2 separate regions of the Homo sapiens genome follow, and region 1 is linked to region 2. The links come from fine-mapping of genetic effects on gene expression. Tissue or cell type: whole blood. Region 2 holds a variant in brackets; the other region holds the start of a gene. All regions are shown on one strand. Distances are from middle to middle.

Region 1 (5,000 bases), 300 kb before region 2:
CTCAGTTTTTGGCTTAAAAACCAAGCTGTTCCTCCTTATTCTGAATTTCTTGGCCTGCTGTGAAACTAACATTTACTGTCTTTTACAACATGCCCTGATTAGGTCATGGAAATTCACAACTAAATCAAACTAGGATATGGAAAATTTGAAACTTTCACTGCCCATTTTATGTAATGGCGTTGGAAGGTGTTATAAAACATTGACTTTTAAATCTTTATTTTCAAAAGCTATATTATACGATGAATATAATAATTGCCATCATTTATTGAACACTTACTACATGCATTACATAGCAAAATCCTCATACTACCTCTGCAAGAGAGTAAGTTGAACCATATGAAAATTGCCCAATATCAGCAATTTCATGTGGTTCAACCTAGTATCTTCAGACTCTGACCTATAAAGAGGTTAGGGAATCCCTCATAGCCATAACTTCACTCCAAATTTAGTACTGAATCTTTTAGTACTATCTTTTATAGATAAAGAGATCCTAAGATAGTTACAGCTCCTCTATGACAGCGACCCCTTTCCCTACATTAGCCCAAGCACTTTGTGTGTGTACTTCCATCATGGTTATTTACGCATTGAATTGAGGTGGTTTACAATCCATTTCCTCTGCTACACTGAGTTCCTTGAGGGTGGATGTTTTGTCTGTCTTGCTCATTTTTGTATACGTAGTACCTAGAGTGAAAAGTATTTGTTGAATATAACTTTAAGTTTTCTTAAAGTTATATTTTTTGTGGAAACTAAATTTTTATTGATTTGTTACTGGAGAATGTGAAGTAATCACTGGGGTTTTTGCATTTTAGAATCAGTCAGTGGAGTACTGCATTTGACATTCTTGGACTCTCAGGACTAGTTACATGCAATTATGCATACAATTGTCTCTCCACCCTGCCCCAGAGAAAGATCTGAAAGTGCTCTCTTACCTATCTCATCTCCTTTAGGCATTTGCTTAAATACCACCTTCTCCGTGCTACCTTCCCAGATCACTCTATTTAGGACTGAAGCCATTCCTCCAACACCTCTGCTTATATTTTTTTCCCATAGCACACATACCAGCATGTAATATAGTTTTTGTTTTACGTATTCTTTTGCATATTATCTTTCCCATCCTGCTAGAATGTAAGCTCCATGAAGGCAGGAGTTTTTGTCTCTATTTTGTCCACTGATGTCTCCCCATATCAAGAATAGTGTTTGGGGCCGGGCGTGGTGGCTCACGCCTGTAATCCCACCACTTTGGGAGGCCCAGGCGGGAGGATCTCTTGAGTCCAGGAGTTCCAAACCAGCCTGGGAAACATGGCGAAACAGCCGGGTGTGGTGGCGCGGGCCTGTAGTCCCAGCTACTCGGGAGGCTGTGGTGGTAGGATCACCTGAGACTGGGAAGTCAGGGCTCCAATGAGCCGTGATCCTGCCACCGCACTCCAGCCTCGGTGAGAGCAAGACCCCGTCTCAAAAACAAACAAAGTGGCATATAGAAGATCTATAAGATTTGACTGGAGTAAAATGAGAAAGATCTAATCGTTTTAATGCGCTGTTCACACGGGGTTTTTAACTTCGGCACGAACGAATGAACAAAATCTTTTCATATGGAACCAAGTGTACGGGTATTTGGGGTGTGTGCAGTTTCCGCGGGACAGAATGACCTGTCCTGGTTTGGGTATTAACTTGCCTTGATATTGAAGAACCTCCACATTCCCAGTGGTCTCTAACTCATTGTCTGAATAATTTCAAGGTGTCCCACAGTTGGCCCCACGCATAGCCTCAATCACGATCACTCGCCCCCCTGTCCCTTATTGATGCTCCCCCAGGGCGACCCCGCAAAGGCCTGGGGACCGAATGGAACTGCCCCAGTCCCCCTCCTTCCAAGAGAGCTGGGGTTTTCTGGCTTCGGGGTCAGTTGGAAAAGAGATTCCCACCCAAGTCGCAGGGTGGGAGTAGGGGGGATGAGATAGGAGTGATGAAGGAAGTGTGTCTAAAATTCTAGGCCTCAGGCCCGCAGCTGTCCCTGGAGGCGGCGGGGAAGCGGGGTGGTCGGGTCCTGCGGAGGGCTCCCAGGGAGGCCACAGGGGGAACCAAGGGGCGGTGGCTGAGTGCACGAGTCCCGCCCCTCCATCTGTTGGCCCCCTACTCTCAAAGGGAAGCCTGGGGGCGGGGTTTGTTTACTCCGTGCACGCACTGCCGGCCCGGCCAATCCGTGGGGAGCGGCGCCAGGCGTCGCACATTCTGAGGGCCAATCGGCGCGCACTGTGCTGCTCCGCCGCCAAAGCTCGCGCGGGGGAAGCGGGGCTGTAGCTGGGCAGGGAGAGGGCGGACGAAATCGGTAGCGATCTCGGCTGCGGCGCTGCCGCAGCTGCCCGGCCCGCGGGGCGCGCCCTGACCCTTCATCTTTGGGCAGGCTCGAGGGCGCGCGCACGGTTGGCGTTCTGGGGCCTCAAACTCCTGGGCCTTGACCGGGCAGGCCGCGTCTCCCCGGGTGTGAGTCCACCGGGACCCGGCCGCCGCCTAAGCGCGGGCGCCACAGAAGCGGCGGCGCCCGAAGACGCGCTCCTGGCTCGGCCCGACAGCCTCGCTTGGCCGCCAGTTCTTCTGCAGCCGAAGGCGGTAAGGTCTGGGGCGAGGGCGCGGGCCCGCGCGCGGAGGGCCTTTGGACCCGGCCGGGCGCGTTCCTGGGTAGGTTTCCCTCCCTGCGCACAGGGGCCCCCTTGTTCCCCCACGAGTCCCATCTGTTTAGACCTGGGTTCTCCAGGCCTGGCCGGGTAACCCGTGAGTGTCTGGGCCAGAGTCGAAAGCAGAGGAGGGTCACCCTCTTAGTGCATAGAGCAAATCGGGGGAGGTAACGTCCCTGAGTCACGCCTCGTGGAAGAGGGGAAGGGCTGCTTTCTACTTTCTCGTTCTCTTCAAAGAAGGATGGCTTCTAAATCTGGTTTTCCGATTTTTCCCTTCTCCTTTCATGACTCACAGGCCTCTGTGTCCACCAGGTGTTTTGTTTGTTTTTAAAGAGTTTCTAAGCTTTGTGTGCTTGGAAGAACCTCATATGCCCCATAAAGGAACTTTTCTCTGAAGTAGAGGATCGCTTTTTGGGCCCAGACTCCTTTGAGAAAATCTGGAAAGCCAAGGTCTGTCTTCACAAAGAAGTGTAAGGGTTTTCCTAGGATCTCGCTGAGAGACAGTACAACGAAGTGGATGAGCGCCCCAGTCTCTCTTACCAGCCTGTGCTATCTCCCATTGTGTGATCTCGGTTTCTTCATCTGTAAATTAGATGCATCCACCTATTCGGTGTGTTTCGGGGAGTGAATGGACTAATGTATGGAATGCAATCGTAAGAAAATCCTCCACGTATTAAATGCCTTGCATTAGTTAGGCACTTTTATTATTGACTGCCATGGATGCTGGTTTAGAAAAAGACCCTATATTATTTCCCTTTTAGTGTTGAGACAGTGAACGGGCTCATTCCTTTTCCATATTCACTGCTGAAGCTGCCTTTGAGCCCATGAATACTTTTATCTTTTCCTCATTCCATCTCAGAGGGCACAGACTCCCTCTCACTTATTTGCTTTCTTTCAGTAAGGCTCTCTTTTAGCTCAGCCTTCTCCTTCCCCTGTCTCCCCGAGATCTGAGTTTTGTGTCTTTTCATTTGACTTGCACAACCTACTTTTTTTTTTTTCTGGGCCATGTGTTTTCTCTTCATGGCTTGAATTTATCTTCACCTAATAAATAATTTACCTGTTTTTTTTTTCAGCTCGTGAATATATATTCATCTATTTTCTATATGGCATAATCATGTCCCTGTCTCTCTTTAAAAGTAGATATAAAAATAGTTTAATTGATCTATATTGCAGCTTCCTTTTCCATTTCATTGTTTAGCCTGTTATTTAGCTAAACTTTATCACTATCAGATTACTGTAATTAATCTTTAATGGCAGTGTCCATTCTCAGACAGCACCAGGAGAAAAATCAAATGCCTAGACCCCAGATTCTGTCACACTTGTGTACTGGCTCTGGATGTGTTTGTTATTTATTAGAACATCTTGTGCCTGTAACTAGTCTAGTCTAAGAGTAGACATGGTGTCTGTAGCGTTGTTCTGGCTGTGCAGTTGCAGTTTGAGCACTGTGGCCCTTACATTTGTTAATAAAAGGTTCAAGACTTACTAAACTCTTACTTTTCAGTTCTCTTCATTTCTAGGTGTTTAAAAAGGAAAGCTGAATTTTTGCAGTGTGTAATACTTCATATTCTCATTTTGTGATCATGTAATTCCTCCCACCCTGACTCTTGTGAATGTGTAGTCCAAGTGGCACATGGAAGTTTTTCTCTGGCAGCTAAAATTCTTAACTGTCTGAGCCGTGTGCCCTCAATATAACTGATGAAGTGGGATGTACTTCCTTGTCATCATCTTTTAAACTCTTATTGCAATATGTGTTATAATGGATCTCAGAAGAAACTAGAAGGCATAGATTGAGAGTTCTTTTAGATCATAGAATTTTAAATTGTAGTGGATTTTAAAGAGAATCAAATACACTCACCTCTTCATACTTAAATCCTTTCCGTTTTAATCTGGGATACATGACTCTAGGTGTGCGGCATGAATAGATATGAAAGTAGGCTTGTGAACTCTTGGAAATATTATGCAAAATTATGCATATTTGTATATTTTTTGGAGAGACTATTTATAGTGTCATAGTTTCTGAGGCAAAGATATTTGATCAATTCTTTTTTTTTTTTTTTTTGAGACAGGGTTTCTCTATGTTGCTCAGGCTTGTCTGGAACTCCTGGGCTCAAGTGATCCTCCCACCTCACCCTCCCAAGTAGCTGGGGTTATAGGCACACACCTCGCCATGTTTGGACAACTCTAATTTTTATAAAATTATTTCTTTCACTGAACTAGAAATTGTGTCCTCACTGTCTCTTCTGTATTGTGGGTTTTCAACTATTTGAAGATACTTATATTCCACTGAGTGTTAGAAAATATTCTCAGTCTTTAACCTCTGCTAGTGACTTT
Region 2 (5,266 bases):
GAGGCAGGAGAATCGCTTGAACCCGGGAGGCAGAGGTTGCAGTGAGCCAAGATTGCACCACTGCACTCCAGCCTGGGTGACACAGAAAGACTCTGTCTCAAAAAAAAAAAAAAAAAAAAAAAAAAGACACTCCATGTGCTCCTGCAGCCACCCAACCAACCTCTGCGCTGCAGCCCGTCCCCTCTCACCCCTCACACATTCCAGCAACTGTGCCTCTTTTTCTTGAATCATTTTTATTTTGTTTTAGACTTTTAAAATATGTATTTACTGTAAATTCAGTGCAGAACACCAGTCTAAAATATGTTGTTTGGTGAACTTTTGCATATGTAAATCCCTCTGTTACTGCCACCCAGATCAAGATACAGAGCATTTCCAGTACCCCTGAAGGCTTCCCCATGTCCCATTCAAGCAAGTACCTAGACTATATTACTCAGGGCTACATGTTGGATGGAGTCCAACACCAGTATCCTTGCCCTAACGCACAGGCCAGTTGTAGACTGCTGTGTGTGTGTGTGCGTGTGTGTGTAATTTCTTCAATCTCTAGTTCACCTGACTCATTTTCTTTTTTTTTTGAGACAGAGTCTCACTCTGTTGTCCAGGCTGGAGTGCAGTGGCACAATCTCAGGTCACTGCAACCTCCACCTCCCAGGTTCAAGTGATTCTCCTGCCTCAGCCTCCCGAGCAGCTGGGACTACAGGTGTGCGCCACCACGCCCAGCTAATTTTTGTATTTTTATTAGAGACAGGGTTTCACCATATTAGCCAGGCTGGTCTTGAACTCCTGACTGCATGATCCACCTGCATCAGCCACCCAAAGTGCTGGGATTACAGGCGTGAGCAACCACACTTGGCTCTTTTTTTTTTTTTTAGATGGAGTCTCACTGTGTCGCCCAGTCTGGAGTGCAGTGGCACGATCTTGGCTCACTGCAACCTCTGCCTCCTGGATTCAAGTGATTCTCCTGCCTCAGTCTCCCTAGTAGCTGGGACTACAGGCGCACACCACCATGCTCGGCTAATTTTTGTATTTTTGGTACAGACGAGTTTTCACCATGTTGGCCAGGCTGGTTTTGAGCTCCTGACCTCGTGATCCGCCTTGGCTTCCCAAAGTGCTGGGATTACAGGCATGAGCCACCATGCCTGGCCCACCTGATTCATTTTCTGTTTGAGATCTGGAAGCTGGTTTTCAACCCTGATACTTTTTTTTTTTTTTTTAAACCCTGATCCTTGATCCAACCTCTGGCCTAACTCCTTTTTCCTTCATCGTGATGGCACATACCCTGCTGGGTTTGCCAGGATCCACCCATAGGACTTGGACACAGAAGAGAAACTGGGGCGAGGGAATTCAAGTTGTACATGGGCAGATTTCAGCTCCATGAACTGAAGCAGGGACCCTGTCGCTGGGCATGTGCAAGAAGCAGCTGCAGGGCCACATCTGGGCATGGAGCAAAGGGAACTCTTGGACTGTGAGGGAGTTGAAAACCATCATCTTGACAATTTCTTCCAAATCTAATCTCCTGTGGGACCGAGAACTGACTGTACAAAGTGATCTAGGGCGTCAGTCAAGGACACGACCCTTTATGCTGATGATCCATTTTGCATTCCAGAAAATAGTGATAGAGTTTCAGATTTAACCATTTTGAGCCTCTTTCTTCAGCTGTAAGAGTCAGGAAAACAGCTGGGCACGGTGGCTCACGCCTGTAATCCCAGCACTTTGGGAGGCCGAGGCGGGAGGATCACCTGAGGTTGGGAGTGCAAGACCAGCCTGACCAACATGGAGAAACCCCATCTCTACTAAAAATACAAAATTAGCCAGGCATGGTGGCATATGCCTGTAATCCCAGCTACTCGGGAGGCTGAGGCAGGAGAATTGCTTGAACCTGGGAGGCAGAGGTTGCAGTGAGCCGAGATCACGCCATTGCACTCCAGCCTGGGCAACAAGAGCGAAACTCTGTCTCAAAAAACCCCACAAAAATTAGCCGGGCATGGTGGCGGGTGCCTTAGTCCCAGCTACACAGGAGGCTGAGGGCAGGAGAATCGTTTGAACCTGGGAGGCAGAAGTTGCAGTGAGCCGAGATCACATCACTGCACTCCAGCCTGGGTGACAGACTGAGACTCCATCTCAAAAAATAAAATAAAATATAATAAAATAAATAAAATTTTCAAAATATTATATATAGGCTGAGTGCGGTGGCTCACACCTGTAATCCCAGCACTTTGGGAGGCTGAGGTGGGCGGATCACTTGAGGTCAGGAGTTCGAGACCAGCCTGCCAACATGGTGAAACCCTGTCTCTACTAAAAACACAAAAATTAGCCGGGCGTGGTGGCATGCGCCTATAGTCCCAGGTACTCGGGAGGCTGAGGCATTAGAATTGCTTGAACCTGGGAGGCGGAGTTTGCAATGAGTTGAGATCGTGCCACTGCACTCCAGCCTGGTGAAAGAGCAAGACTCTGCCTCAAAAAAAAAAAAATTACTTATTGTATATACCAATCTTATAACTACATATTAATCTGTAGAGATATTTCTATGAAGATATGTATTCTTTCAGGCTCTTTGCTCCTTTGGAATCATATCATTAAATATCATTTTGTAATTTTTTTAAATTGTAGAGTAAACATTCCAGCCTATTAAACATTCTTTAATAACATTCCTATAAGGAAGTACAGAGATTTATTTAACTGGTTCCTTATTGTGGCCGTCTGGGTTGTTTCCAGGTTTTCCATATTATAAACAATACTGTGGTGCATATTCTTGTGTCTATTGTCTGATTATTTCCTTAGGATGGCTTCTTAGAAGTGGCATTGCTGGGTTAAAGGGAAAGGACATTTTCCAGGCTTCTGATTCTTATTACCAAAGTGCCCTCCTGAAACA[C/T]GGTACCAGTTGTGTTCCTGACAACGGCCTATTTTTGAAAAAATTTAAGTCCAGCACATTGTAACAATGGAAGTTCAAGATAAACTGTAGCAGCTGGTTTCTGGGATGGTTTCTGTGTCAGATGAGCTGGGAAGCCCTGGGTTGAGGAGGGAGCCTCATAAGCTGGCTTGGACCCTGCAGGGAAGTCTTACTCTACTCACACCCGCATGTTTAGTGAGAAGCCCATTAGGTCAGATACAGTCTCTCCACTGGGGCAAAGTTCACTTAGGCACCTTTTGGCATAAGCAGGAAAGGAGGCCCTACCTTCAGCTCACCCAGCCCCACTTTCTCTGAGCCAGGTCAATGAAGCAAGCTGATGGCCTGGCCAGCCCAGCCAGCTTGGGGGCCTGTGGTTAGAATAAGCCACTTTGCTGCAGGCCTCACCATCCTTCTCTCCAAATTATCTGAAAACTGGCTATAGATCAGGTCCTGCATAGAAGCAGAAGCGCAGACAGCAGGGGGTGCTGCCAGCCACTTCTCTAGTCACCTCCCCTGTGCAGACGTGGGACCCCTTTCCCTGCTTGAGGCTTTTAAGAGCCTGGGCCCAGCCTTACCGGCAATATCAGTAAGCTCAGCACCTTCTCCCCCATTTCCCACGCACCAGACCTGGAGTAAATGGATAAGAATTCTCATTACACTTTTAAGTATTCTTTTTGCTGTTTTTGTTATCGCTATTGTTATCAGAAGTCAAATCTGAGGCAGAAAGGAAGGGAGGTCTTCGGAAAATCTTTGACCTCCAATTTCTTCAATAGCTTGTGGTTCCCAGCTTGTACGGTAATGTTTTAACATTTCCAAGCTGGACAGCAGACAAGGCGGTGGGGGTGGGGTAGTGTGTGTGTGTAGGGGAAGCATTGCTTCTGGACAGTAGAGTGTTAGAAAGCACCTCTAGAATAGTGAGAAAGACCACTAGATTCAGTAGACTAGAGGTCTTCAAAACACTGCTATTCATAGCAACCCAGATTAGAACAATCTCTATACCTAGCAATAATAGAACAGATAAATAAATTGTGGTGTATTTGTCCAGTGGAATACTATACAGCAATGAAAAAACCAAGCTACCATCACACAGAATATGGGTGGCTCTCACAAACCCAATGTTGGGTGAAAAAGCCTGACACAGAAGAGCACATGTTGTATGACTCCACCGATATAAAAGTTCAATAATGCTAAGTGTTTAGGGATGCCTATTAGGTGGTAAACTATAAAGAAAAGTAAAGCTGTGATTTCCATAAAATTCAAGGTAGTGGTTACGCTTGATAGAAGAGAGGATAGAGGCTGTGATTGGGAAGGAGTGTGAGGTGGCTTCTGGGTGCTGGTGATGAGCTATTTCTTGACCCGAGAGGTAGTTACACAGATGTATTTCTACTTTACAACAATTATTTAAGCTGAATCCTTATGTTTTGTGCATTTTTCAGTATGCGTGTAGTTGTGTACTCTTGTGTCTGTATGTGTTTAAAAAGATAAAGGGCCAGCATTTTCCCAGGTAAGTCATGAGTTGACTTGAATATTGCATCTCTGTGGTGCACATCTGTGATGCATATCAAGGACTCCTATGAGTCTGTGCTTTCATAGGCCACTCTAGTGGCTGACAATCAATAAGACTGTGTGATGGGGCAGAGAAAGAAGGAGATCTACCCAACTACTGAGCCACAAAGCTGAACATACTTACCTCATTTAAGCCTCTCAGGGCATTTAAACTCAGGGCGGCCAGGATCACAAAATAATCATTCCAGTTTAAAAGGCAGAGGATAATCTAGAAAGAAGTTCCCATCTGTTAGAGTCAGATAGCCTGAGGTCAAAACTTGTCCATGCCTGAGAAATCTATAAAACTGAGCATAACACCTCTTTCTAGGGCTCTGAGGAGGAATAAATGAGCTAATTTGTAAAGTGCCTGACATATTTTGATGCTCAATAAATGTTAGAAATATCCTCATTTTACTCAAGAAAGCACAGTGCCTGCATGGAGTTGGAACTTGTCTAAGGTCATCTGTTAGCAAAGGGAGGACTAGACATTCAAACCTGGGTGTTTCTCTCTTAGAGTCCAGGGCACCCCTGACTAGCTATGTTATAATAGGAGACTAGACTGTGGGAGGTCTATGCAGCAAGAGTAGTTCACGGGCTGAAGTGGGAAGGCATTTCACAGAGAATGTGACATTTGAGCTGACCTCTGAAGAAGAGGAGAGGCATGGTAGGCAGAAGAGTGAGTACAGGCCCAGCCTCAGAGGTGTGAAAATTCATAGCATCATTGGTGAACGGTGGGTGAATGATTAAGTCACTTAATTTGTCTCAGTGTTGGGTTCCATATACACGGAATTAAGGTAAGAATACCTGCTCTGCTTATTTTATTTTATTTATTTA

What was found. PIP is the estimated chance that this variant, and not a neighbour inherited with it, causes the effect.
Region 1: it holds the start of TFDP2, and the variant in region 2 is fine-mapped to the expression of TFDP2 in whole blood (TOPMed, PIP 0.98).

What each region holds. Positions count from the first base shown.
Region 1 is chr3:142,146,787-142,151,786 of GRCh38, reverse strand. It overlaps TFDP2 (transcription factor Dp-2), which reads left to right and starts at 2,243. Exons shown (of 13, transcript NM_001178139.2): 1 at 2,243-2,604. RefSeq lists silencers at 1,968-2,017, 2,128-2,337, 2,398-2,467, 2,698-2,747 and an enhancer at 2,098-2,598.
Region 2 is chr3:141,843,709-141,848,974 of GRCh38, reverse strand. No RefSeq gene overlaps it. Among named protein-coding and RNA genes, the nearest start is that of ATP1B3, 30 kb to the left of the region's middle. RefSeq lists a cis regulatory region at 123-267. The variant C/T (reference allele first, on the strand shown) is at 2,870.